Linked DNA regions of Homo sapiens. The protein of the gene in region 7 interacts with the protein of the main gene of each other region in a biochemical or structural test. Each region holds a gene or a part of one and is shown on either strand. Other genes may lie near its edges. The genes, in order: PDLIM1, GRIP1, TJP2, IL16, MAGI2, ARHGEF11 and KCTD3.

What was found.
Region 1: the proteins of KCTD3 (region 7) and PDLIM1 interact in a test that uses a peptide from one of them, tested with the Homo sapiens proteins (one large-scale study listed by IntAct).
Region 2: the proteins of KCTD3 (region 7) and GRIP1 interact in a test that uses a peptide from one of them, tested with the Homo sapiens proteins (one large-scale study listed by IntAct).
Region 3: the proteins of KCTD3 (region 7) and TJP2 interact in a test that uses a peptide from one of them, tested with the Homo sapiens proteins (one large-scale study listed by IntAct).
Region 4: the proteins of KCTD3 (region 7) and IL16 interact in a test that uses a peptide from one of them, tested with the Homo sapiens proteins (one large-scale study listed by IntAct).
Region 5: the proteins of KCTD3 (region 7) and MAGI2 interact in a test that uses a peptide from one of them, tested with the Homo sapiens proteins (one large-scale study listed by IntAct).
Region 6: the proteins of KCTD3 (region 7) and ARHGEF11 interact in a test that uses a peptide from one of them, tested with the Homo sapiens proteins (one large-scale study listed by IntAct).

What each region holds. Positions count from the first base shown.
Region 1 is NC_000010.11:95,280,573-95,284,705, forward strand, and holds part of PDLIM1 (PDZ and LIM domain protein 1), read right to left. Parts: intron 1-4,133. UniProt on the Homo sapiens protein: Cytoskeletal protein that may act as an adapter that brings other proteins (like kinases) to the cytoskeleton. Involved in assembly, disassembly and directioning of stress fibers in fibroblasts.
Region 2 is NC_000012.12:66,392,577-66,396,709, reverse strand, and holds part of GRIP1 (glutamate receptor-interacting protein 1), read left to right. Parts: intron 1-2,357; coding exon 2,358-2,502; intron 2,503-3,893; coding exon 3,894-4,033; intron 4,034-4,133. UniProt on the Homo sapiens protein: May play a role as a localized scaffold for the assembly of a multiprotein signaling complex and as mediator of the trafficking of its binding partners at specific subcellular location in neurons.
Region 3 is NC_000009.12:69,180,602-69,184,734, reverse strand, and holds part of TJP2 (tight junction protein 2), read right to left. Parts: intron 1-4,133. UniProt on the Homo sapiens protein: Plays a role in tight junctions and adherens junctions. Acts as a positive regulator of RANKL-induced osteoclast differentiation, potentially via mediating downstream transcriptional activity.
Region 4 is NC_000015.10:81,294,062-81,298,194, forward strand, and holds part of IL16 (pro-interleukin-16), read left to right. Parts: intron 1-956; exon of another isoform or gene 957-1,270; coding exon of another isoform or gene 1,271-1,321; exon of another isoform or gene 1,322-1,387; coding exon of another isoform or gene 1,388-1,459; exon of another isoform or gene 1,460-2,866; coding exon 2,867-3,017; intron 3,018-4,133. UniProt on the Homo sapiens protein: Interleukin-16 stimulates a migratory response in CD4+ lymphocytes, monocytes, and eosinophils. Primes CD4+ T-cells for IL-2 and IL-15 responsiveness. Also induces T-lymphocyte expression of interleukin 2 receptor. Ligand for CD4.
Region 5 is NC_000007.14:78,120,233-78,124,365, forward strand, and holds part of MAGI2 (membrane-associated guanylate kinase, WW and PDZ domain-containing protein 2), read right to left. Parts: intron 1-4,133. UniProt on the Homo sapiens protein: Seems to act as a scaffold molecule at synaptic junctions by assembling neurotransmitter receptors and cell adhesion proteins. Plays a role in nerve growth factor (NGF)-induced recruitment of RAPGEF2 to late endosomes and neurite outgrowth.
Region 6 is NC_000001.11:156,937,743-156,941,242, forward strand, and holds part of ARHGEF11 (rho guanine nucleotide exchange factor 11), read right to left. Parts: intron 3,332-3,500; exon of another isoform or gene 3,316-3,331; coding exon of another isoform or gene 3,313-3,315; intron 2,684-3,312; coding exon 2,465-2,683; intron 2,169-2,464; coding exon 1,806-2,168; intron 772-1,805; coding exon 676-771; intron 1-675. UniProt on the Homo sapiens protein: May play a role in the regulation of RhoA GTPase by guanine nucleotide-binding alpha-12 (GNA12) and alpha-13 (GNA13). Acts as guanine nucleotide exchange factor (GEF) for RhoA GTPase and may act as GTPase-activating protein (GAP) for GNA12 and GNA13.
Region 7 is NC_000001.11:215,598,057-215,602,189, reverse strand, and holds part of KCTD3 (BTB/POZ domain-containing protein KCTD3), read right to left. Parts: intron 324-4,133; coding exon 236-323; intron 106-235; coding exon 1-105. UniProt on the Homo sapiens protein: Accessory subunit of potassium/sodium hyperpolarization-activated cyclic nucleotide-gated channel 3 (HCN3) up-regulating its cell-surface expression and current density without affecting its voltage dependence and kinetics.

The DNA.
Region 1 (4,133 bases), on a different chromosome or scaffold from region 7:
AAGTACTCCAGCCTGGATAATAAACAGTACTGTTGCCTTTTTGACAGAGGTGGGGGTTTTAACCAAATATTTGTCAAATGGTTTAAATGGTTCTCAGGCAGAGGTTTTTGCTTTGTTTTATTTTTTTCTTTTTCTTGAGGGAAAAACCGTGTCTATTCAGAAGGCTTATTTGTGGACAGGACTACAGGTCAATTTCCTGACTCTTTATGGAACGTTGTTAACCTTGCCCCTTGGAGTTGGCTCTAAACCTCAGGCCAGAAATCAACCCCACTCACCAATACTCAGCCAACTGTGATATTTGCAAGGATGAGGCAATGGTTTTCAAACAGGTTGGTCATCAGATCCCATGGGGGCAGGGATTCAAAATATAGATAGAGCTCCACAACCCATCTCAGATCCACCAAAGACAGCCTATACAGTGAAACCCAAGAACCCATACCTTTTTAAAGCTTCCCAGAAAATGTTAATGCTCATCAGGTTTGGAAACACCAAGAGAGATGATGACTATGACTATCTTTTCCCCTTAAACTCTCTCCCTGAATGAAGTTAAAGTCATCAGGTAGACAAAAAGTAATTAGACCCTAAAATCTCAGCTCCTCCAGAAACACCTTCAAGGGCAGAACTTATACTCCTATAAAATACATACAAAGCCCTTGAAAGGAATATCCATTAGAATAGTATTCCTCTATCTCTTACCAAAACAGACTTAAAAAAAAAAAAATAGGCCAGGCAGGGATGGCTCATGCCTATAATCCCAGTACTTTGGGAGGCCACAGCAGGAAGACTGCTTAAGCCCAGGATCTTGAAACTAGTCCGGGCAACACAGTGGGACCCTGTCTGAACAAGAAATTAAAAATTAGCCAGGCATGTAGTCCCAGCTACTCAAGGAGACTGAGGTGGAAGGATCGCTTAAACTGGGAGGAAGTGGAGGCTGCAGTTAGCTATGATAGCACCACTACACTCCAGCTTGGGCAATAGAGCAGGATGCTGTCTCAAACAAAACACAAACAAAAAAATACAGCCCCTGTAATGTTGGTTAACACCCCTGAAAATGCTATGCAAATGAAGCATTGCATAAGTAATTTTGTTGTTTTTTTTAAATAGAGATGGGGTCTCACTGTGTTGGCCAAGGTGGTCTTGAACTCCTGGCCTCAAGCAATCCTCACACCTCGGCCTTCCAAAGTGCTAGTTTCACAGGCATGAGCCACTGCGTCCAACCAGTAGAAGTATAATAACTCCAAACAAGATATCTAAATAACTCGACGTGGGTCCTATTTTCCCTTGGCCAGAAAACTCACAGCTAAATGTAGTGTGCAATTACAGAACCAACTGATTTAAAGTTCCTGGCACTTCTCTCTCTTTCCTCTTCCATGTTCCAATTTTTTGTTAAATCTTATATGTGTTCTTGTGTTTTAAATATTGTAAATGTGTAACTAAGTGAAAGACAAGCCTAAGACAAGCCTGCAAGTAAGTGAAAGAGACAGCCTAAATAACGATAGTAATAATTATATACAACTGGGATAAAGAAATGTGAGATTCAAGTTCAATCGCAATGCTACATGCCTTTAAGCATAATCTCCGCTGATTTAACAGTTGTGTCAAGGTATTTGGGTACAAATTTAACAGATTCTAAACTGGGGATAAAGCAGGACCCAGCTCTGTAGGATGCCATTTACATGTGGAATTTGAACTCTCTTTAGTCAGAATCTTCTGACTCAGTATGTTTGTGAGCCGAGGCTGTGGCACAGACTTCACAGCCATATTATGGCTGCAGAAGCTGTATGCATTTACACAGGGTGACCTGAAAACATAACACTGTTTTAAAATGTTCTTGGTTAGTCTATAACCATTTTCTCAGGGAAATGAGGCAATAAAATAGGGTAGATGCTTGTAGATAAGTTGCACCTTAATCCAGCTTCACACTATGCATGGTGCAAAAAGAAGTTATTAGTGCTAAGGGGTGACAGTTCAAAGAGACGTGCTGCTCTCTCAGTCTGAAAGACCGACCACCATTTCTCAGACAGGAATATAATAAAACAGGTAGCCAAATAGAATACTCTGACTAAATTCTTAAGAAGTCATCGAGGCCAGGCGTGGTGGCTCATGCCGGTAATCCCAGCACTTTGGGAGGCCGAGATGGGCGGATCACTTGAAGTCAGGAGTTCAAGGCCAGCCTGTTCACCAACATGGTGAAACCCCATCTCTACTAAAAATACAAAAAATTAGCCAGGTGTGATGGCGCACGCTTGTAATCTCAGCTACTTGGGAGGCTGAGGTGGGAGGATCACTTGAACCCAGGAGATGGAGGTTGCAATGAGCCGAGATCATGCCACTGCACTCCAGCCCAGGCGACAGAGCGAGACTCCGTCAAGAAGTCGTCGAGTTCCTCAAAAGTTTCCAAACAAGCTCCTATGAACCCTACGTGCTTTTAAATAGCTCCAACAGCTACCACCCATAACCCAAAGCCTAAACACTCACTAAACCTTGAGGGAATTACTCTCTCTGACTCAGTATCTTCATTTATCAAATGAAATTTATAATGCATCAACCTCATCAGGTTGCTGGAAGGCTTAAATGAGACTGCATTTGTAAAGAGTTCAGAACAATGCCTGGCACGTAATAAACACTCAATATATAGTAGCTACCATTAATATTTTTAATATTTAATAGTTTAATAGTACCACTAGGCTCTCTCTATATATCATCTTAATCCTCACCACAACCTTTGAAGACAAGCGCTATTATTCCCACATTGCAAATGAGGACACTGAATTTTCAGGGGTTAACCTGTCCAAGAACATACAAGCTAGTAAATGGACAAGATAAGGTTTGAACTAGATCTAGCAGATATCAAAAATGTATTTTTCCCTTGACATTAAGATGTCTTTAATTCTTGATTTGTTACAGTAAAAATAAGGCAGAAAGCACAAAGCAATGAAGTCCCAATAGTTCACTGAGATATAGTAATTTGGTTTTAGAAATGCTACGTGTGCGGAAAAAGTCTGGAAAGGTTTGCAGCCAGCTGTTCACTGTGTTTACCTCTGTAAAGTAAGACTGGGGAAGCCTTTTACCTTATGCTTTCTGTAGGTTTATATTGTCCGATCTTTTAAACAATTACGCGGGCTTCTATGTAACCTTTACTGAAGGATGACATGTATACAGCACAAATGGTAACGATACAGCTGATTGAATTCTCACATACAGAGCACACCCAAGGAAACAGCATGGGATAAAGAAGAGGACATTACCTGAACTGCTAAACCTCCCTGTGCCCGCCTTCCGTCACTGACCTTCCGGCAAAGGTCTGCCATGATCCTGACTGCTAACACTGTAGATTAATTCTGTCTAATTTTATGTAACTGGAATCACACAGTATTTACTCTTCACTCTTAGGTATGGCCTTTTTCTCTGTGTGTGTGTGTGTGTGTGTGTGTGTGTGTGTGTCTCCTTCATGTCACTGTGCATAGTTGTAATTTCTTCACTCTTGTTGCTGTGATGTTTTATACCATATAATTACACCCACTACTTATCTATTCTATTGCTGTTAGACATGTGAATCGTTTCAAATTTGGGGCTATTATGAATAGTGTTGCTTGGAAAATTCTCAAACTTGTCCTTTAGCACTCATGTGGACCCAGTTTCTATTGACTATTTAACTAGGAGAACTGTTGGGTTATATGGTATGGGTATGCTCAGCTTCAGAAGCATAAGTATTTTTTATTATTTTTTTAAAGAAATGGGTGCAAACTATTTGCTGCATCAACCATATTTAATCTATCTGTATGCATTTTTTTTTTCTAGATGGAGTTTCGCTCTTGTTGCCCAGGCTGGAGTGCAGTGGCGTGATTTCAACTCACTGCAACCTCCGCCTCCCAAGTTAGAGCAATTCTCCTGCCTCAGCCTCTTGAGTAGCTGGAACTACAGGTGCCTGCCACTACGCCTGGCTAATTTTTGAATTTTTAGTAGAGACAGGGTTTCACCATGTTGGCCAGGCTGGCCTCAAACTCCTGACCTCAGGTGATTCACCCACCTTGGCCTCCCAAAGTGCTGGGATTACAGACATAAGCCACCAAGCCCAGCCTCTGTATGCATTTTCAATATCTTTATCTAAACTAGGTCCTATCTATGTTCTT
Region 2 (4,133 bases), on a different chromosome or scaffold from region 7:
ATCACAGGAATGTGTCCTTCTTAGTTAAGAGGTACCATTTCCCAGATTTGCATCTCCATCACTATCTAAACTCATTGGGTGACCTAACAATTGCCTTCTAGTCAGTGAGGACTCAGATGCCAATAAAAAAATGTCTCCAAATAAGGCAGCCTGAAACAGACTATCCTAAAGCCATTCACTTCATCTCTGGTATTATTTTGTCATCTTTGCGTCTCAAGTTACATTGTCAAAAAATAACATGGAATACTCACTCTGCAGAATGAGCTGAGTAGAACCAGGTGCCCCCCTTCTCCCAATGAATGGGACTACCCCCAACTCCCCTTCCATAGTCCAGTGTTTGTTTTCATCTTGACTGCAGTTTCAATGGACACTTCCCACTGGTTCTTGGGTCTCCAGGTCCTGGGCAACTGTCCTTCTCCCCAAAACCCATAAAGAGCAGATGCTCCAACCCAAAATGCTTGGCACCCATTGACAAGTTTGTGCTCATGCTTGCCTTATGCAGAGAGCAATAAGGGGTCAAGGTCTTTCCTATGGCATACACACCTCCACTGAATGGCCCACACAGAGTGTCCAGCAGTAACTAATGTTCAACTGTGCCAGGGACTACTAATCAAATGACTCATTCAGAATTTCATCCAGGATATTGTTGATGATGAGGGCTGCAAAGTACATGTAATCTATCCAATAGTACTCTGTTCATTTAGGTCAAAGCCAGCTCTGAAAGGTGACAAAATATCGTACTGTAGGAAAATTTAGACTTTTGACCTCTGCTGATTATTTGGTTACCCTCTATCTTGATGTTTCTCTCTGGAGCCCTTAGCAGATCATCACCAGCCTATTGGCCACAACTTCAGCATCAGCCCAGAAGAAACTTGTGAACCAGCAAACAGAGCTGTTTTAGGCTTGATATGGGAGCTTCTCAGCTGCTAATGTAAATTTGAGCCCAATGTTGAAGATTTTGTGCCCTAAAATGTTGACTTAAGCATTGCAGTGTGTGGTGGATGGTCTTTAGTTCTGAATGTGTGGAGTAAATACGTTGAGTAGAGCACTCAGAAAGTGGAGGTAATGGCTGCATTCAAAACTCCCAATCTATGGCCAGAAGTGAAGTAAGTGCTGGCGAGAGAGGACACATTGCTTCCCAAATGACTTGATAGACCTTTCATTTTATATTCATCATAATTCTTCACTGCAAACACAAATAATTGAATTGTTAACTCAAGCTTTGGTTTTCCTCCTTATTTTAGGATTTCATATCGTAAACGAACAGCTGCTCACTGCAAAAATGTGGCCATGTTAATGCTTCACTAGGATGTAGTCTGACTGTAAAAGCTGACTATTTTGCTAAAGTAGCCACTGAACCATTTCATTTTATCCTTAGTTGCAGAAATGAAACAGTTCCTTAACCATTCACAGCTCCCAGGCCCAAGGAATAAAACAAGAAGTGCCCAAGAACTTTAAGCATGTCAGAAGCAAATAAAACCTTTGAATTCTGAGACTTCTTATTTGCAACTCTGACACCATCACAATACCCATCACGTTGAAGGCGGCCCATGATATCTTTCTGGCCAGTGCTTTAGGCAGAGCACATTCACAAGTGTCTTCAACTATAATAATGTTGAATAGCCAAAATTAGTTTATGACAGTGTGGCAGGCTGGTCTATGCTGTTGAAACATAGCTTACAACAGCTGTTACTCCATTGAAAGAGGAGAGATGATCATTCAAACCTCCACTTTAATATCCGTAATTCACTGATAGGACTCACATTAGAAGACAGTCAGTGGAATGATATCTAAGAGATTCTAGATTTCTTGCTGTTGTCTTCAAGTTTACTTATCTAAGTTCCACTTAACCATATATATGTTATTTGTTCCAACCCTTCGCAAAATCCACTTTTCTATATCAAAAGTTAGCATGCATGTAAAGCTTAAAACGGAAACAGCGTGACCCAATGTCTGTCTTCTTTGTTACTGAGTGACTCTCTCCTCTCATATTATAATGCCTCCTCAGCCATATGTTTATTTCACAGATATTTACTGCATACTTACTAAATGCTAGGTAAGCACTGTCCTAGACATGGACACAGTTGAAAGGTCCTGCAGCCCCAGCTGGGCGGATCTCACACATTTAAAACATAAGTCATTAGGCAGTGTTCCTCTCCCCTGGCACTGACAATGATTATATCCCTGTATTTGAATGTAAGATCCTACTAAGGAAATGCTACTTCCCAAAATAATTATTTTCTGTGACATGATACTTTGACGAGGATGTTTTGAATTCTTTTATGTATGAATCTATGCATCTTACTCTTTTGCTTTTTCCAAAGAAATCAATTATGATTCCTTGGCATTTATTACAGATGAGCAAGAAAGTTCCGGAGCAATTATTTACACCGTGGAGCTTAAACGCTACGGGGGGCCCCTTGGCATCACAATTTCAGGAACTGAAGAGCCGTTTGATCCTATAATCATTTCAAGCCTCACTAAAGGGGGATTAGCTGAAAGGTAAAATTTGAAGTAACTGTTATAATTACCTGTGTCTGAGACGGGCTTCCTTCCTCACAACCACATAAAAACATGCTCCTCTCTCTGTGGTTATCTGTTGGCTTTTAAAAATCTGCACAAAGGATTGATCTTAGAGCCTGAGAACTCTCAGGCAGAGTTCCGACTTGACTCTGAGGGGCATCTTACAGGCAGTAAAAGACGTCTTGGGCTTAGCATTGATACTACTCTCTGAAATGTATAAGCTGACCACAATTGACTGAAGGCGGATTTGTATTGTGTCCATTTTGAGAGGAGGAAACTAAAGTTCAGGGAGGTTGAACAGCTTGTCCAATTTCATTCAGCAAACACTTGCTGAGCCTCTGTTACCTGACAGGTGCCACACTTAGCTGCTGTGTTTTCAGAAAAGGATGATACAGACATCATCTTCAAGGATTATGGGAAACAAAGTGTATAACCCATTTTAATAATGTCTTAAAAGCTGGAATGTCCATTTTTTCCTTTGGCAATGATGTACACACACACCCACTCCCCACCCTCCGCTAAACTGCATTTCTTTCTGAGATGTGTTGTTGGACATATAACAAACCCTATAAGCAAATCTGCCCTCCAGTAACCTAGCTCAGGAATACACAAATGCATTGTTCCTGCTAACAGTTGAAAACAGTGGCTAGCAAAATAGAGACACAGCATTGCAAAATGTTGGAGCTGCAGTGTACCTTAGAAATTAGCTCATACAGGCCAGGTGCGGTGGCTCACACCTGTAATCCCAGAACTTTGGGAGGCCGAGGTAGATGGATCACGAGGTCAGTTCAAGACCAGCCTGGCCAATGGGGAAACCTCATCTCTACTAAAAATAGAAAAATTAGCTGGGGATGGTGGTGCTTGCCTGTAATCCCAGCTACTTGGGAGGCTGAGGCTGGAGAATTGCTTGAACCCGGGATGCGGAGGTTGCAGTGAGCCAAGATCGTGCCACTGGACTCCAGCCTGGGTGACACAGTGAGGCTCTGTCTCAAAAAAAAAAAAAAAAAAAAAAAAAAATCTGTAGAAAGAAAGGATGCTCCATGCTATCCACTACATTTGTCATTCAACATTGTTCATTTTCTTGGGATTTTTAGGGTGCTTAACCAATGACTCAGCTTTCTTGGAATTAAAAAACACAGTTCATTTTAATAACTAATTAAAACAATTTTTAAAATTTTATTGGAAACTAAAAAGTAATCCACAACAGATGCAGTTATCTTATAACATTGCCCAGGAGAAAGCAAGAAGGGACTTCTGGAGATCCTTACCAAGTCTTTATTATGATGAATGTATAAGGTATGTCAGGGAATTTATATTCAGTACCATACAGGGATTATTTCTACCTCTCCTATTACTATTTGGCTTTTCAGAACTGGCGCAATCCACATAGGAGACCGAATCCTAGCCATCAATAGCAGCAGCTTGAAAGGGAAGCCTCTGAGTGAAGCCATCCATTTGTTACAGATGGCAGGAGAGACTGTCACCTTGAAAATTAAGAAACAGACAGATGGTGAGTAGTGAATTGAAAGCCACAATTAAGGATTTCCAGTGCATTTTCTTCCTTGAAAGAATGTGCTAGTGTCTGTGTGTAATTCTAGGGAAACAAATCT
Region 3 (4,133 bases), on a different chromosome or scaffold from region 7:
ATCAGTCTGAACTGCAGCAGCAGTTCTTGAGGAATGATGAAAATAATAAATTATAACCACTGCCATTTACTGAGCACCTCAAAGCAACCCCAGGTGGCATCTATGCCATTTCTTCTTTGCTGGCACTGAGTTTCTGTTTCTACCAGAGATCCCCCATCTCTCTTGCCAACAGGGTTCTACCAGCGAGGTACACGTGTTTGAGATTTGGAAGGATGAAGGAAAGCAGAAGCCATTTGTTTTTCTTCTTCCTACAGACAGCAGCAGTAGCAGGCAAAAGTTGGATTCCTCAGACATGAGCTTTACAGCATGTCCAGATTCCCTGCCCTTTCACCAGCCTCAAGGCTGGAGATGCTGAGAAGGTGGAAGGTCAAGCAAGACCTTCTGAGTCTTCTCTGGGTGGCAGCAGCTTTCTAACTTTTTTTGCGGCAAATCAGAAAGCCAGCGGTGGGCTTCCATTTTTTGCGCATCTCGCCTTTTCTTTGTCCTGAAGGCAACTAATACTCTGTATTGAATCCCCTTCTCCTTGAAATAGCTAGAATGACATGTCTTCTTGACTGAACCATGACTGATAGGGTAGGCCTATTTTACAACTGAGAAAACTGAACATGAGAAAAAGGTAAATTGCTCAAAGTCAAGCAAGCAAGTGGCAGGACAAAAGAATTCACACCCAGGTTTATTTGACTTCAGAGGTAAAGAATCAAAGTTAAACATCTGTAACCTGGCTGGGCGTGGTGGCTCGCATTTATAATCCCAGCATTTTGGGAGGCCAAGGTGGGCAGACTGCTTGAACTCAGGAGTTGAAGAGAAACCTGTCTCTACTAAAAATACAAAAATTAGCTAGGTGTAGTGGCGCATGCCTGTAATCCCAGCTACTTGGGAGGCTGAAGCAGGAGAATCACTTGAACCTGGGAGGCACAGGTCGCAATGAGCTGAGATCATGCCACTGCACTCCAGCCTGGGTGACAGAGTGAGACTGTCTCAAAAAATATTTTTTTTAATCTAAAATAAGTTTTTTAAAAAATCCCTAACCTATGGTCCTAGGAATTCACACAAGAGAAATGGGTGTACATGTCCACAAGGCAATGTGTAGGTGCTTTTCATGGCAGCTTTATTCATAATAGCAAAAACACTGAAAATAACCCAAATACCTATCAACAGAAGAGATAAGCCAAATGTGACAGATGCATATAAATGGAATACGACTCAGTGGCAAAAAAGAACTACTGAATCTCACGCAACAAATACGGATGAATTTCACAGAGGTTAGGTTGAGTGAAAGATGACAGACATAAAATGTTGATTTTATTTATATATGGGTCCTCTCCCAAGTTCAAGCAAAAGTGTTCCACGGTGAGAGAAGTCAGAAGAGAAGTTCTCTTTTAGGTAGGTGTGGTAATCATTGGAAAAGTGGCAAGAGAGAACCTTCCAGAGTGATGGAAAATTCTAGTTTTTAATCTAGGTGGTAATCATGCAGGTGAATACATTCATGTAAAAATTCACCTACCTCTGGAACTAGAGAGTGATGGTGTTTACAAAATACTGTGAGTGTATTAAATGCCATTGAATTTTATACTTTAAAATGGTTAAAATGGTACACTTAATGTTATGTGTACTTTACCACAATAAATAAAATTCCCTGGCCAGGCACAATGGCTCACGCCTGTAATTCCAGCACTTTGGGAGGCTGAGGCAGGTGGATCACCCGAGATCAGGAGTTCGAGATCAGCCTGACCAACATGAAGAAACCTTGTCTCTACTAAAAAAAAAAAAAATACAAAATTAGCCGGGCATGGTGGTGCGCACCTGTAGTCCCAACTACTCGGGAGGCTGAGGCCGGAGAATTGCTTGAACCTGGAGGGCACAGGTTGTGGTGAGCCGAGATGGCACCACTGCACTTCAGCCTGGGCAACAAGAGTGAAACTCCATCTCAAAAAAAAAAAAAAAAAGAAATTCATCAAGCTCTCTACTTGAGATTTGTGTGTGTGTATATGTATATACATACATATAAATTCAACGAAATTGATAACACAGAAAAAGCTTCATTATCAATAAGCAGACTTGTAACAGAGGTCGTGCCACTGCTTCTACAGGAAAATTTTCTTCATGGAAACATACCAGGCAAATTTTTTTAGCTCTAAGTCTGGCAGATTGAGTCTACCTTTCCTGCCTCTTCCAGATCCTTCACTGCCCAAAGTCATCTGCCAAACTGTGCACTTAAATAGTATAAGTAGACTAAATATTTCTCTCAGACCTTTGATTAAAATTCAATTTAGGCTCAAAACGAACTTGGGGCCTCTTCCTTTCAATGTGTTGCAAACTTGGGGCTTCTTCATTTCAATGTGTTGCCACTTGCCCTTGTTTTTAGGCTTTAACAATAACACCAGAAGGAAACGCACAAATGTTTCCAGCTCCATTTCTGGAAAATTTCAGTGAGTGTCTAAGATGCCACAATGTCTCTCCTCTCTTAAAACTCACCCAGACACTAAACAGACCAGCCCAAGGAAGGCAAAGTGCTCTGCCTGAGGTGACGTTGAAAAACTCCAACATGCCTGAAGTTATGCTGAAACTCAGATGACAGCAGTGATTTTACACCAGTGAACAATGTGGTTTTTTGCAGCAGTGACCAGTAGGCTCATCTTCAACACATTTGTGAAGAACAAATCAGAAAGGGCTCCCAGCTGCAGGCCTGCCCCTCCTTCCAAGCGTATGTCACAGGCAATGAGGCCCGGGGAGAAGTCCATGGGGGTGGAGAGGAAGAGGAAGAGGAAGAAGGATTCTCAAGAAGCTCTGCAAGATGGTTGCAGTTGCTGGCTTAAGCTGCAAAGTAAGGAAGAGAATCCAGCACACGTGGTGCTGGTACATAATTTAAGCTGCAACTGAATAATAGATCTTTCCATCACTTTATGAGCAAAACAACTACCAGCCACTCTTGGACTCTGTCTTTTTAAAAAATGCTTTTCAGAGATAATCCACTGGATCTCTAAAAAAAAAAGAAAGCAAGCAAGCAAACACAAACGTAGTTTAAGGAGCACAAAAACATTTTAAGATGAGAAGAACCAATGGAAATAATTTAGAATGTTCTCTAGGCTTTATACTCAAACTTCAAAACCTTCAGAATCTTAAGCACAAAAGACTTTGAGATGATCAACTGTAACTACTCATTTTCTGATAAAGAAACTGAGAACTAGGCCAGGCGAGGTGGCTCATGCCTATAATCCCAGCACTTCGGGAGGCCAAGGCAGGCGGATCACGAGCTCAGGAGTTCGAGACCAGCCTGGCCAACATGGTGAAGCCCCGTCTCTACCAAAGATACAAAAAATTAGCAGGGTGTGGTGGCGTGTGCCTGTAATCCCAGCTACTTGGGAGGCTGAGGCAGGAGAATCGCTTGAACCTAGGAGGCAGACGTTGCAGTGAGCTGAGATCGGGCCATTGCACTCCAGCCTCAGCGATAGGGCTAGACTCCACCTCAAAAAAAAAAAAAAAAAAAAAAAAAAGAAATTGCAAACTAGAGTCACAAGACAGCAAAAGCCACCCAGCTAATCAGTGGTGCAGCTAATGCTGCTTCCATGCCATTACAAAAATGGTCTAGATGAAATTCTATAATTTTTTTTGGACAAAATTCTCTGGATGAAATTCGCAATTCTAACAAACGATCATCTACTCACTATATAAATGTCAGGAATCCACTGTCCTAATTTCTCAATTAGTCTCTTATTCCTACTAGCTTATACAACAAGCCTGCCCCAAATCAAGTCAGTCCAACGTTTAGTGGATGTGTTGGTGCTCTGTTAGCTTCTGGGGTTACCAAGATGACTCAGACCAGGGAGGGGCTCAGGGCTGATGGGAAGTGATAAGGGCTAGAATAAATACTAGCATGTGCATCCTCACCAATCACAGGCAAGAACACAATTGATTCAGCCAGACTGCAGAAGGGTAACGCAGAAACCAGGCTGCTAAAACTGAGCTCACCAGGAAGTTCCTTCCAAATGATTCATTCCTTTCAAAAACAGAAATGTTTAGTTTTGCTAATTAATTCCCTCAAATAATTTCATCTGCTTTGCCATATATACCTAGGAACAGTCTTCCAAGGACTGAGAGCAGAATGATTGTCTCTCGAAGCCTACATTACTTAC
Region 4 (4,133 bases), on a different chromosome or scaffold from region 7:
GTGGGCAGGTGGGAGGGGGCCTCTGGAAATCCCCTAAAACAATCTACAGTGAGGGTTGGCAAGCTTCAGGAGGGGTAGCGGTGGAGACGGGATGTTGAGTAGGAGGGGTGAAAGTGAAGGAGGGAGGAGGAAGCCAGGTTACTAAAAAGGAAGTGCAGTTTTGCAGAGCGCTGGCAGGATGTGGCTGGTTAGCAACACATGATGGAGTTATCAGATGGATCTGTTCTCCCACCCCCTCTTTTAAGCCCATATTTCATTTTCCCTTGGGCCTGAGACCTATGAGTCCAGAAGGGCAAATCAGGAGCAGCCAGCTGAGAAGCCAGTCATTTTGCCTTCCTCCTGGAGGCCCAGAAAAGGAGTGCAGTTGCCACAGCAGGTCTGTCCCAGTGATGCCCTTGGCAGAGCCACATAGGGTCAGGGAATATTCCCGAGTAAGGCGTCTGGAGAAGGAACTGGGGTGTCCTCAGGGAAGCCCAGGCAAGGAACTTCCCACAGGTCATCTTTCATGCCCTGTGTGCCTCAGCAGAATACAGGGCTCCCTCCTGTACCTGCCCCCAACAGCACCGTCTCCTGGAGACAAGGCCGTTCTGCAGCTGCCCTCCTCTGTTTGCTCTGGTCTGTCCCACGTGGCCAGCAGATCCTTCTCCCACAAACATTTCCATAAAAGCAATCAGCACGACATAATTTTATTGGGCACTGGAGAGGCGGGGGTCACAGAGAAAGGATCATAGCACGCAATAGAAAACAGGAAGCAATTTGCTTGAGGTCACTCTCAAAATTTCCTTGACCATTCCTGGGGATTTCTCACTGGATGTTTTCTTCCGTGGCCACAGTGTCCACTGTCTCACTCTCCCACTTTTCCCTCCCTGCAGTCTTTTCTCTACAGGGTCCCAAGACTGTTGTCAAGCTGCTATGGATGACCCCCAAGTCTTTCCCATCTACTCTAATTCAAGGGGACTTAACTCTCACAACCAATATGAACTTTGGGATATTTTCTTCAACAAAAAACTAACATCCCTCTTATAAAAAATCAGCCTAAACTCTCCCCCGTGCTTTAAAAAACTTGCTTAAAAAAACACAACAGGATTTTCGAAGAATCCTTTCTTAGAAAACAAACAAAAAAACCAAACAAAAACGTACTTTCTCCCCACTATGCTGAATCTGCTCTCTCCCTCTTTCCTTCTTTCTCTTCTCCCTCCCTCATCCACCAAGCATGGTTCCAGGAAACACTAGTAAGAGAAAAATTTGTGTAAAATCAAATTTATTTCAGGGGCTAATTCTGAAGTCTCCCATGAAGAGGATGCAATATTGGATGTGTTGATGAAAAGACAAAACACATTTGTGCTGTTCTAAGTTGTAAAGCTGCATTGACTGCAGTTGGTATCACATGTGGCTGCCTGTAAAAGAGCTAACAATTCATGAATGTCAACAGATGTCAACTTACAGAGCTCCCAACCAGGTGAAATTAAATTTCATCCCCATGTAATTTCTCTTGTGGACAAGAGACTTAGAGATCATCAGGCCAATATTTGGAGCTTCTAATGCCATGACTCAGCCTTACTTTTTTTAAGGGCTAGTTCGAGAAGCTCAATGATTCCTTTGAAATTGGTTGATCTCTCAGTATTTCATAATGCTCTCCTAAAGCTCAGTTCTACAGTAGGGAACTCGAGCTGAGGCAATGCTCTGTGAATACACTTCTAACTTTTGTAGACCTTTGCTTCCTCCAAAATGTTTATTGTCAATGTAGATCTTAAATTTCAGGTCATGGATATTTGCCATTGCTTTTTTAGTCCCAAAGGATGCATTTGTTCCTTCCTCTTTCCTTCCTCTCTGGAAGGAAGCCTGCAGCCATGTCAAATGGCCCATCATTACACAAATCTGGAATGAACCGGACGTGGAGGCCACCGCAGTATAGCAAAGCATTTCTCTTGCAGACAATCAAATACAGGTGGCATCATTTTGATGATGTCTGCTTTCTCAATCTTTTTTTCCAGATGGGTATTATGTTTGGTTGGGCTATGTCTCTGGAACACTATTTTTCTGCCTCTCTGCCTGCAAAATTCTTACTCTGTTTATGAAGCAGACAGAAAGTACTTCTCTAGGAAGCCTTCTCCACCTCTGGGATGGAACTGGTCTCTCTGTTTCCTCTGGGCCCTGACAGTACCTTAAGCACACTGTGTGATAATCCAAACTCTTCAAGTATTGCATAGCTATTCAGAGCCTGGTTCATCTTGTCCCTAGGCTGTTTTGGGAGGACCCCAAGGCTGCATCCAGGCTCAGTGGTGGAAACAATTCTGCAACAGATTGAGGATGTCACCCTAGGTGCCACAGAGGGGAGCAATGGCACAGGTGCTGAGTATCTGTCATCTTTTGCAGAACACTTACTAAATATTTGAAGAGTGCTTAACAAGTGACAGCAATTGACAAGCATTTTCCTGAGTGCTCTAACCTTAGGGAACACTAGCTGCCAGGTTTTTTTGCTGCCTTGTTTCTACGCTGCCCTATACCCTCCCGGGGTGGGTAGTTCACCAGATGCAGTTGTAACTGAAGCAATGCCAGTCCCTCCACACTCAAAGCCTTTTGTTCCTATCATAAAGAGTCAGGGTCTTCAAGTATGTCAACAGTATGAGCCCATGACCTGGATACCAGGTTGCTGGAAGTCAAGGGATGCTCTGCATGTCTAGGAGGTGCTGGCTCTGCCACGTCAGCACCAAGGAGAAAAGAATCCTCTTTACATGGCTGCTGATGAACTTCTCACTGAAAGCAGCTCAATATCCGTTTTTCCGTCCCAATCAAAGCGTGTCTCGCCTTCTCACAGCTTGAGGCTACCGTTTTGACATGGTCTCGCTTCCTGTTTACACCACAGGAAGCGAGAGAGCTGCTGCCACTGCTGCTACCACAGGAAGACACAGCAGGGAGAAGCCCTAGTGCCTCTGCCGGCTGCCCAGGACCTGGTATCGGCCCACAGACCAAGTCCTCCACAGAGGGCGAGCCAGGGTGGAGAAGAGCCAGCCCAGGTAAGCTTTCATTGAGATCTTCCAAAAGGAAGGGTCTTTTGAAAAAAGGTGCAGGGATAAGATAAGAGCACAAATTGGCCTGAGGATCAGAGTGCTCTGCATTGACATCACCACTGGACCTGGCTGATCAACAGTCAAGGGTTCCAGGTGCTGGGCAGCAGCACCGTGGAGGTGCTGTCCAGGGTGGGGAGCCTCCTGGGTGGACGGGTGATGCTGTGGGGGTGGCAGCAGGAATGCAGGCCATTCTGGATAATTGGGAGGATGGAGCCCTTGGAAGAGGTCCAAAGACACACCCACCCAGCCATCCTGGGCAGCTACCTCTAGGGTGCCAACATTCCAGTTGCAACAGTCCTGCTGCATTCAGGATTTCTGAGTCAGAGAATGCAACGCCAGAAAAGTATAAATAGCATCTACCAGTGGTCACCTCCTCCATGAGGTGGATAGCAAGGGTGTGTCCACATGGTACACCTGACAATGCTAAGACATGACTTGAATATTTATTTGCTTGCTAGAGAGAGCATAGGACTTGAAGTCAGGGAATCCTGGATCTGTCTGTCATTAGTATGATTCTGAGCAACCTACTTTGCCTTTCTGAGCCCAGATTCACTCATCAGCAATGTGTGGAAGAGCACGTAGACCCCAAGCATATGATGCATTCAGCAAGCACACATTGAATGCTGGCTTCGTGAGGCCCTGTGCTAGATGCTGGGGGGAGAGAGAGAAAGGGATGAGACCAGGTAGTCAGGTCCTGCCTCCAAGGAGCAACTAGTAGTGGCAGGAAATAAACATATAGACTATAAAACATATGACTGTTTGAGTAACACTACAGAAAAGCTCATGAAAGACTTTTGGAGGGCTAAGGGACATTTTGGAAAGATCTAGCACATCTCACCCAGAGCAGAGGCCCTGTGGGTGGAGGCTCCTCTCCCTTAGTCACCCTAATTGAGGAACATTCTAGCAAAAGCAAACGCCTCAGTGTTTAACTGACAGGAGGTTGTCACTCCAATCTGCAAAGGGCTTGCCTGTGGAACCTCTGCCTCCTGATTCTCACAACAGCACCTTACAGCCAAGCCATTCAAAAATGCAGAAACAGGCTGGAGGCCTGGGCTCACTTGC
Region 5 (4,133 bases), on a different chromosome or scaffold from region 7:
TCTACTAAAAATACAAAAAAATTAGCCGGGCGTGGTGGCAGGTGCCTGTAGTCCCAGCTACTCAGGAGGCTGAGGCAGGAAAATGGTGTGAACCCAGGAGGCGGAGCTTGCAGTGAGCCGAGATTGTGCCACTGCACTCCAGCCCAGGCGACAGAGCAAGGCCCTGTCTCAAAACAAAAACAAAAACACTTGACAAGAAAATTCTAAAATTATATGGAAGGGCAAAAGCCCAAGAACATCCCAACACCACTGAAGAATTAAGATGTGTGTCTGGGGGAGAGAAAGTTTCCCCATACAAAACTCAACACTCATTAAAAGGTAGCTAAGTATGGCATTGATGCAGGGATAGACAAATAGACTAGTAGAACAGTATAAAGAATCCATATACAGACCACTGCATTTATAGAAATTTAATTTATTATAGAGCTGTCATTGCAGATTGGTGGGGGGTGGGACAAAGAAATACTCATTAAATAATGATGCTGTGGACCGGGCGCGGTGGCTCACGCCTGGAATCCCAGCACTTTGGGAGGCCGAGGCGGGCGGATCACGAGGTCAGGAGATCGAGACCATCCCGGCTAAAACGGTGAAACCCCGTCTCTACTAAAAATACAAAAAATTAGCCGGGCGTAGTGGCGGGCGCCTGTAGTCCCAGCTACTTGGGAGGCTGAGGCAGGAGAATGGCGTGAACCCGGGAGGCGGAGCTTGCAGTGAGCCGAGATCCCGCCACTGCACTCCAGCCTGGGCGACAGAGCGAGACTCCGTCTCAAAAAAAAAAAAAAAAAAAAATAATGATGCTGTGACATGTGGTTATCCATATGGAAAAATTGAGATTGAGGTTCTACCTTATATCATACAGAGAAATCAACTGTAGGTGATTAAATACTTAGATATAAAAAGTAAAACTATACAACTTTTAGAAGAAGATATAAGAGAAGACGTTTAAGACCATGTCTTGGAGAATGATTTCTCAAACAAGACACAGAAAGCAGAAACTATAAAAAAAAAAAAAAGGGTTAAGCCAATTACGCTAAAATTAAGACTTTCTCATTATCAAAGAGCATCATAAAGAAAGTGAAACTGCAAGCCATAAGCTGGCATAAGATATCTGTATCACATTAATTGATGAAAAAGATCACCAATAATATATAAGCATTTCTATAATCAACATGAAGAAATATTCAACAGAAAATGAGGAAAGACATGTACAGGCATTTTTTAGTTAAGAGAGAACATGAACGTCTAATAAATATAAGAAAAAATGATGAATATGAATTTGTAATCAAGAAATGCAAATCCAAATCTAAAATATATAATTTTCTACCTACCAGAATGAGAGTTTAAAAGTCTGACGTACAAATCTTGTGAGTGTGTGTAGTAAGAAAAACTTTTTTACATATGCTAATACAAGTATAACTTTGTAAAACCACCTTGGACAATACTTTTGTGTTACTTAGGTAAGTTAAATTTGTGCCCTCCAAGGCATCTAGTCTAGTCTAGAGAAAGTCTTGCATAGGTACAGCAGGAAAGATGTACAAAGATTGTATGAGTTACAACAAACTTGGAAACAACCAAAGTGTAAATTGACAGGGAAAATCTCAAATGTCCATAAAATGGAAAAATAGATAATTATTATAGGTTGTAGCATATTCACATAATGAAATAACTTATAGCAGTGAAAAATAAATGGACTATAGCTTCATGCACCAACCTTGGATGAATCTCATGAACATAACATATAGAAAGCAAACCACAGAGAAGAACATGTACAGTATGGTTCAGTTACATAAAGTTCACAAAGTGCACCAAGCTAAAGGTTATAGTTGAGAGATACACACATCTGTGGTAACAACAGAAGAAATGTCAAGTGCTTTATTTAGGAAGGTGGTTCCCTCTGAGGGCTGGAGAGTAGGAGGAGAATGAAATCATGGGAGCTTGGTAATGTTCTGTTTTTTAAGTGGGGCTATGGGTTCATGGGTCCTTGAATCATGGTTAGTATTTACACTTATTACATATGTTAGAAATATTCTTGTAAATCGTTTTATGTTTAATAAAAACAATATATAAACCAAGATGCTTTTGTATTGACTAGTTATATCTGGTCTATAGAAGGAAAGGTGACAAATTTAGAAGAAGCTAATTTCAGGGAATGTTGCTTTTCCTTTAAAAAAAAGATGGGCAAATGATATTTTTTTGTGCATTGATTGGTTGAACAAAATGTTTTAGTCATTCCAAAGCCCATTGCAGGCAGACTTTTGCATCATGTGAGTTTCAGAAAGTAGGTAAACCATCTTATAAATAAGCTTATGTGATGCTAAATAGGCATACACAAATGGTACCCAGCTGCAAGTGATGAAGTTATGAAATAATGTTCTTTTTCATCATAAAAATACATTTTATGGAAATGCGAACTATATTACACTTTTATGGAAACAGGAAAATATTTTACCATTTTAAGAGCAAACGATCTCCTTTCAGATTTCTCTTTTAACTTGACTCTCAGATTTTTATTTAAGCACTTAGAATTTCTATTCTTTCCCTCCAAATGTCTCCTGATTTCTTACATTCCCTGTTTTACTGAGCTTTGCCAATATTATTTTTTATGTTCATTATTTTTTGCCTGTGTTTTCTATTTAGTTTTGGCTTTTAATTAGGTTATATTCCTAGGAGCTTTGTATCAGAGATTTTATTCACTAGCTATGAAAATTTCATCCCTCCCAATTTTATTAGGCCATTTTACAAACGTAAGTCTTCTTTTTATAAACAGCTCCAGTAATATTTTCTAATAATTTATTATCCTTTTCCTTAAAATCTGAATGTCCATTGTGTTTCTCTTATGACACCAGCCTTCTTGACTGACTGAAGAAAAGCAAGCAGACGTGACAATGATATATCTCTTTTTATTATTCCCCTTATTTTCTGCATTCACAGATTGTGTTTTGTTTTATCTATTCAACTTTTAATACATCAGTATTAACTGATGTTGAAAAACCATCTAGTATAATAATTAAAGTCAAAACTTGCTACTCTCCACTGGTTTTTTGATAAAGTGAATATAGTAGCTCCCTCTCATACCTCTTGCATATATTCCAACATCTCCAGCGGATGCCTGAAATCACAGGCAGAACTAACCCTATATACACTGTTTTCCCTATATATATCTATGATAAAGTTTAATTTACAAATTAGACACAGCAAGGGATCAAAAACAATAAAAAAAGAACAATTATAACAAAATGCCAGCATCACTACTCTTGCACTTTGGGGCCATTACTAAGTAAAACAACGGTTACTTGAACACGGGCAGTGCGATACCATGATAGTCAATCTGATAATCGAGAGGGCTGCTGAGTAACCAGTGGGCAGGTAGCATCTACAGTGTGGATAAAGGGCTGTTTCACCTTCTGGGAAGGACAAAATTTCAGCACGATACTCACAACGCTGCACAATTTAAAATTTATAATTGTTTATTTCTGAAAAATTTTATGTAATATTTTTGGATTGCAGTTGACACAGGTATCTATAATAAAACCTCGGAAGGTAAAACCTCAGAGTTTCACCTGAAGAGCTTCCTAAAACATAGCCTGGTGACCCCACTCCTAGAGTTTCTGATTCAGCAGTTTTGGGTGGGGCTAGAGAATCTACATTTCTACCAAGTTTCCAGGTGATGCTGATGCCAGGAACCGTGCTGAGAACCATTGCTCTGGCTTAAATTCTGTAAGAAAGAGGAATCTTTTCCTGCAAGGGTATTTCTCTATTTAGGCTTCTTTGCCTTGGGAGTACTGTGTATATCCAGCAGCGAGTCATTTAGATCCCTTGTGAAAATACATGGCCACTGTTTGTAACCGACAGAGACCAGCCCTGTAGTCCACCGTGGGTCTCTATCTCTCACAGGGCTCTGGCCATTTTGCACATGGTCTTCCTACTGTGTTTCACCTGCACTGGAAAGATTAATTTTGTTTTACTTAACTGCTTGTGAGCTGGCCTTATAGCAGGTTAAGAAAGTGTCCTTCTGGCTTATAGGGAAGCTGTAGAGCCAGGAAACCATGTGGAGGCCCATCTTCAAATCAGGGCTAGACGGGGTAAGAGGAGGCTGGTGCTAGATCACGGGGAGGGCTGCCAGTCTCTGGTGT
Region 6 (3,500 bases), about 59 Mb from region 7:
GGAGAAGTGGCAGAGCTGCAGTGTTTCATTTGGGGAAATTGGAGTGGCTCCCCCTCCTTGAGTAAACAGATTGTGAGCTGGTTTCAGGCTCTTCTGAAAGGAGCAGGCAGCAGCCCTCTTGCCCTGCCTGACTCCAGCTCTGGATGAACTACAGCCCTGCCCTGCCCCTCTTCCATCCATGCCACGATCCTCTGGAGGTCCCTTGACCCAACCAAGGGGTGTCAGAGAGAGCTGGAGGAAGGACGTGGAGGGTTCCTGACAGGCAGGAAGCACAGAGAACCACCGCGGAATCTGGGAGGCTCTTTCAGCCGATTTCCACAGTGACACTGGAGCGGCGGCTGAGGTGGGGAAGTGGCTGCTTGCATATCAGGTGAAGGACACTAGGTCCCCACCCCCAGGCCAGGCTTCCCTGCCCCTCCCACAATTGCACACAGGCATTTATCCCTGCCATTCTGAACAGGAGCCTGGACAGGTGGCTTCTTAAGGCTGGATGGACAGCCAGCCTTTAGAACCAGATCTCCCCGTCTTTAGAGCCAGATCTTCCTCCTCCCCATTCCAGGCAGCTGAGGGAGCTTGTGGGTGTGTGTGTGACCATGGGCAGGGGTCCGACTCTGCCCTCACAGGTTCCACACTCCAGTCTTGGCCTGTCTTTAGCTCCAAGGAGAAAGTTATTACCCGTAGCCTTTGTTCCGCCTTCCACTTCAGGTGGCCCAGGCTCTGACTGGCCACTCTCTGGTAGTGCAGGGACAACCTTGCTGCCTGCCACCTCAGCTGCACCGACACCACCACCACCAGGAAGAGGAGAGACCAAAACACAAGGAAAGGGAAGGGAGAGAGAACAGGAAGGAGAGAGGGCAGGAGGTGGGGACAGGGGGAGGAGAAAATGGGAAGAACAAGGTGAACACAAGATCATACACGATGACATCCCAGGCAGTGCAGAGAACTTTCCACCAATTCACCGAGAGACAGAGAAGGAAGGTCAGTTCCCAGAAACCCAGGAGACAGGTGGCCCTTGGGCAGATGGAATGAAAAATGCTGCTGGAAGGGAGGCAGAGTGGAATCCCAGGGGAGGGCAGGCCCACTAGCGTGGAACCCCATCCCATGTGTGCCCCAGGCTTTGTTCTACTTTTCTTGCCACCCTCTCAGACCAGCCCACTCTTCCCGGGGTGGGGACCTTCCTCCCTGGGCTCATCTATTGGCCTCCCTGTGAGCTTGTCTTGGCTTTTCTTGTCTCAAGGCCGTCCATGGTGTTTCCCAACCCGGGGTGCCCTCCCTGCCACCTTGTTCACTCCCCACATCCCTCACTCGCCAAATGTCTTCCCAGCTTTGTCCTCCACCCCTTCCAGTCCCAGCTGCCACCTCTACTGCCCTTGGAGCTGTTGCCTGGCGTGAGGGGCTGCATGCACCTGCCCTGTCTTTCCCGGCCTGAGGCTCCTGAGAAGAGTGGCTCTTTTCCCTGGGAACAGGAGATCAGTGAGGAGCACTAACAGAGACTGGTACTGGTAGTTGGTTTGTGCCAGGCAGAAAGAAATGTCCTTATGTGCTATAAAACAAAGTTCAGAGATGATTCAGAATTTTGTCTAAAGCCACACAGATATTAAGTGGCAGAGCTAAGCTCTGAATCTCGAATGTCCAACTCCAAAGCCTGCCTGATATCGGCGTTGTCTCCTTCTTCCAGGACCCAGCGTAGGTCTCTGCTCACACGGTACCCAGGGGGAGTATAGGGAAGGAAGCAGCTGTTCGGAAGACTTATCTCACCTAGCAAGGGTGCTTGTCTCCCCACTGGACACTCCCATTTATTTTACCTTTTCTCACAACTTTGTAACCTCCTGCTGCCTCTGTGCTTGAAGCATCTTCAGCCAGATTCCTGTCCAGTTCTGGAGACTCCCATATCCCAGAATTTCTGGTCCTTGGGGGTAGGTGTTCCAGAGAACAGAGACCCATGTCTTCCTGCTCTGGCCGTTCCCCCTCCAGCCCTGCAAGCTGGGTGTTGTCCCCTTCACCCCCAGGGGGTGCTTGCCCTGGGGAGCCTGGGTCCCAGGGGTGAGAGGTGACGCTGATGACAGAAGGTGTGGGTGTCAGGTCGTCCTCGGGCTCCTGGGCAGCCTGAGTTTCCATGGTGTGACCTGGCAGCAGGCTCCACAGGATCAGATGTCGCAGGTTCTCCACTGGAGGGGAAACAGGGTGATGTCTTCCCAGCATGGGACTGCACACCACGCCAGAAGGATCGTTGTACTGCCCCACTGACCCCAAGGTGGTGACCTCAGGCACAGGTGAAGCTGGAGGGCTCTGGCCAACTAGCTGGTGGGGGTTGGGTGGGGAATGACATCTGTCTCCGCATCCATCTCTCCTCAAGCACACCAGGAAGAGCCTTCGGGAAGGTGGAGGGTGCAGGCGCCTGCCAGTTCACACTGGGTGTGCGACTGGGGACCAGGGGCTGACGGCAGGGCCTTGAAGCACTCACCATCTTCCAGAGCGGAGTCAGCGAGCCCTTCCATGAACAGAGGGCCTGGGAAGGCCAAGTGGATGGGGTTCCTTGTCCTGATGCCCCTGTTCTCTCCATCCAGGGATGTGGAAGGGCAAGGCAGGACACCCAGTTCCTCTTCCTCTGCACTGCCCTCCTGCTCAGGGTCCTCTAGCAGGACCTGGTGCTTCCCTTGGACCCTCTGCTGGGACCCAGTGCCTGTTTCGGATGAGAGAAGATTGTAAGGCAGGGAAAGGGAGAGGGCACGTATGGGAGAGCCTATGGGCAGCTTTGGAGCCAAGGGGCTGGGAACACTGACTTATTCTACAGTTGTTTACTGAGAACTTCCCATGGCCAGCACTGTCCCAGGCTCTTGGCATACAACAGTAAGCAAAACAAAAAGATCCCTGCCTATGTTGAGCTTACATTCTAGGGGAGGGACATACAAAAATAAGACACTTCAGTCAATTATGTAGTTTGTTAGAAGGCAGTAACTTCCACCGGAAAGAAGAAAACAACAACAGGGCATGGGGCTAGGGGCTGGACAGTGCTGGCTACAGTATTAAACAGATTGGGCCAAGAGGACACTGGAATGAAGACGTGAAGGAGGTGTGGCGTTAGGAGGAAAAGCATTCTAAGCAGAAGGAAACAACAGGGACCCAGCCAGGAAACCCGAGATTTCTCCTGAAACCCAAGACCCCAGGTTATTTCTCACGCAAGCTCTCAATGAGAATGCTGTCCCCTCTACCAATCCCATCACAGTAACTGCATCTTAAGCCCTTTGAGCTCCCCAGCCCCGCCATGTTTTCCATTCTCATTGTTGCAGCATGTATCTCCCTCCCCAACAGTAACCCCTGGCTGGAGGATGCAGGGCCCGTGGATCCCGCCAGACTGCTCGTCTTCTTCCACAGCTGATGCCGTCACCCAGAGAGGCTGGGTGGGAATTTCTGGTCAGGTGAGCGAGTTCACCCTTTCTTAAGTCTGTTCAGTCTGCTCTCCTTCCTCTTCCAGACTCTTCCTCCCGCCCTGTTTCTTC
Region 7 (4,133 bases):
TGAGGTAAACACTCAGAGCAGTAATAGCATCATTTGAAGGATCATGATACAGTTCAGTTACAAGAAGATCATTATCTTTCATTCGCAAGGGGAACTTCTGCATATCTAAAACATAAAAATTTTAAACAGCATTAAAATAAATAGCATATCTATTTAAAACTGAAAGGTAATGTTTTCTTGTTCTCATTTAAAAAATTACATTAAGCAGGAGCATTTTAAGTGACTGAACACTTACCTATGTAATATATTGATCCATTGTTACATCCAAGCAGAAGGAATGATCCAGCAGTGTCATAACTAGTTATAGGAACAACATCTTGAACCTGATGTAGTGAGAGTATTATCAGATGTTAGATAGTAATTATAATTTCTATTTTCTGGTCAATTTCCTCAAAACTTTGATTCTTCTGGTAAAGAGGCAACCAATATCCAATTTTAGTAGGGCTTAGGAAATAAACTTTCTTTAGGTGCACGCGTGCACACACATATACACAAACATGCTACAGAGGAGAACCATCAATATACTTCCTTCAAAATATTTTTTTTAAATTGTATTTCCCACAGCAGTACTTTCCTTTCTCAATTTCGATTGGTTGTCTCCTCTTTTTTTGCATGTGATCACTAGATTGCAGCCCACTAGAACTGGAAGGCCGAGTCTGACCAGGTCCCTCTCTTTTCCCTTTCTCATACAAGAGATTAAATGACCTGTCCAAAGTTACACAGTAAGCAAGTGACAGAATCAGAACTAGTAAACAAAGCAACTGATTTCCAGAAAGTACTTGCTCCCTTGATAATTTATTATTTCTCTGAAAAGGTGGTATTCTCTATTTTTCATTCTCCTTGCTAAAGGTTACTTCTTTTCTAGGAAATGGCAAGGGAAACAAAGTCTCATTTGTATTTATTTTTTTAAAGTATAGGAATAAAAAAATTAGTTTTTCCAGGAAAATCAATCTAGTTTACAAATTAATACCTTCCCATATTTGTGCTAAAAGAAACCTGCCGAGGCAGGCAGATCACCAGAGGTCAGGAATTCGAAATCAGCCTAGCTAACACGGTGAAACCCTGTCTCTACTAAATATACAAAATTAGCTGGGCGTAGTGGCGCATGCCAGTAATCCCGGCTGCTCGGGAGGCTGAGGCAGGAGAATTGCTCGAACCTGGGAGGCAGAGGTTGCGGTGAGCGGGGATTGTGCCACTGCACTCCAGCCTGGGCAACAGAGTGAGACTTGGTATCCAAAAAAAAAAAAAAATGTGTTTGCTAGGATAGTTGCAATACTATTTTACTAGAGTGATATTCTACTATTCATCAAAATGAATCTTCCCTGTTTACAGCCAGGCCAGACAAGCCTGTTAAGCTTCTTCACAGATGACATTTGAATTACTAAGACACCAAGTTTTGCATACAAGTCTAAAAGATTTCCAATAATTTAAAAGTTAAAAATGTTAAGGGACTTTTACTTTTCATATACTATACCTGGCTTTCATTTGAAAAGTTAAAATCTAAACATTATCTGCTTAACATTTAAGTACTTTTTATGTACCACATATTATCCAAGAAAACAAACAATGAACTAGAGATAAGGGATGTGAGGTATCCCCTTGCTCTCTAGGAGCTGGTAACTTGTGAGAAAGAAAAATAACAGACAATTATAGTGTGACAGGCACTAAAATAGACTACAATACAATCACAGGAGAGAGGGGAAGAACTGCCATCTCAGTGCTGGTGGGTGAAGAGCAAAGATCAAGGAAGGTTCACAGAGGAAGTGAAGCTTGAAGACTGAAGTCAACTATGAGTTAGGTAGGGCAAGGGGAAAGGGAATATCTGAAGAGCAAGTAAAAAAAGCACAGAATCTAGGTTCATTCTAATTAAAAACAGAAATAACTAAAACTTGGAAATAATCATTCCTCTAAGCTCTTCCTGTATATAATCCTAATTTCTGTACCCTCTCAATGTCATGCAGTTATGAGTTACACAAGAAATATCTCAAAGAACTCAATCATCATGCCCTATCCTGAGGTCAGGCTTTTAATTAAAGCCAATGCCAAAACATTTTATACCAGGAAAACATTGAGTACTTTTCAGTGATATCAGTAAAGATGTCTAAAGGATGGAGGGGAGACTGCTTTACACACCACTAACCAATTTTCTTACTCAAGTTAGCTAAATCATTTTAGTTCTAGCACTAAAGGAAAGGGCTTCAACTCCTGCCCCAGATTCTTCATGGCAGGAAAATGGGGACAGATAAGGCCATGAGATTCTTCTCCCTTTGGATACATTCTTTTTTTTTTTTTTTTTTCAATGAAAGAGCAGCAGGAGCCTAGCGCTTCCCAAGGCACAAAGGCAAACATTTTTACCATTTATTCTCTGGGAGGATGGGCTCTAGGATTAAAGCCTTGCTACTTCTCCTTCTGTAACCTTTAATCATGATCTGCCTTTCTTTCCATGTCTACCCCTCCATACGGGAAAACAGAGAAAGCAGAGGATAAGCAGAGTTACAGTGAGTTACAACTGCTGAGTTCTTCTCTCCCAGCACAAGCAAGGAAGCAGCCACTGTGTGGCCTCCTCTTCTTCGTCCTAACAACTTCATGGCAAGAATCCAAGAAACCATACTGATTAGTATGCATGGTTCAGTCATGTGGTCACAAATATAAAATGGAAGTGGATTTTTCTCTTATAAGGTAGCACACAGTGATTACCACTAATTTCTACATGTAAATTTAAATTTACAGTTTTAAAATACCAGTCTATCTTCCCATATAAGGCCCCTAGAATCTTTTAACTACAATCTCTATACCTGTAAACTTATCATTATTTTTTACAGGATGTTTTAACCTTCGTCCATTACTTTTTAAATAATCACTTATCTAAATTTACCATCGTATTTACCAACATCTTTCCTAATCACTGCTTAATGCATTCCATTTCTTCCCCTTCAAATATAACGTTCTTCTCAAAAGGCATTTTTCTTTAGTAGTCCTTTCAAAAATTCTCTCTGAAAAAAAACCCTTCTCATTCAGGTTTGAATGATAGTTTTGCTGTGTATGAAAACCTAGGCTGAAAGTTACTTTCTCTACCATTTGGAGAATGCCCGTTGTCGTCTTCTGGTGTCTACTACTGGTGATGAGAAATCTGATCAAAGTCTAATGACAGGCAAACTGTCACTATTCTATGAATACTTTTTATCATAATTTATCTTTTATTATAGCACATTTAAACATTCAGGCTGCCAAGACTTGGTACATTTCTTTAATCAATAAATTCATGCCCATTTTCATTTCTCCAAAATGTTAGCAGTTGTTATCTTTTTCAATATGGCTCCTCTAGTCTGTTCCTATCTGAAATGCTTTCTCACTTTTTCCTTCTTTTTCATATTTTCTATCTCACTCTTGGCTCAACTGGAAATGATTTTCTCAGACGTGTCTGTCAATTTACTAATTTTCTTTTAGCTGCGCTTCTATTTAACCATTAAATAAAATTAAAAATTTTTTTTCAATGACCTTTTAATTTTCAGTATTTTATTTCCCTCCATTTTCTGATTTGTCCTATTCCTTCAATACAGCAGCTTTCTAATTGTTCCATTATTTCCAATTTGGGGATTGCAAATTTTTTCTTGTTTAATGACTTTTCGTTATTTGTTTCCATGTGAAGTTTATAAGTTTTGGGAGGTTATTTTAGCAGAAATTACTCTTTCTACAGGATTCTTGTGTGCTCTCTTCTGAGAAAGTGTTCTAACTGGTGTCATATCTGTATCTAGAAATGTCAATAGTCCTAGATCAGTTTCTCAAATTGGAGTTCTCATAGAACAAAGGCAAGTCTTTGTGCTTCAATTCACTCCTAATTTGAATATGTTGGTTTCAATTTCTAATGGTTTCCTCTTGCATCTCCTTTTCCCATTCCAAGACACCAAACACACATCAAACTTTCTTGTTCCAAGATTACTGGGCAAACTTTTCCCAGTCTTCTCAGGGACTGAGAAACTTAAAACTTCAGATTTTTGTAGGAGGCTCAATTTCTACTGTCCCATGAAATCATGCCTCCTACTTTTGCTAAAATCCCAGATCCCAGAGCCTTTACTTTGGTATGTGGTATGAAAGTGTGTATAAACAAACTAGTCAATTAACTTAATACTTAG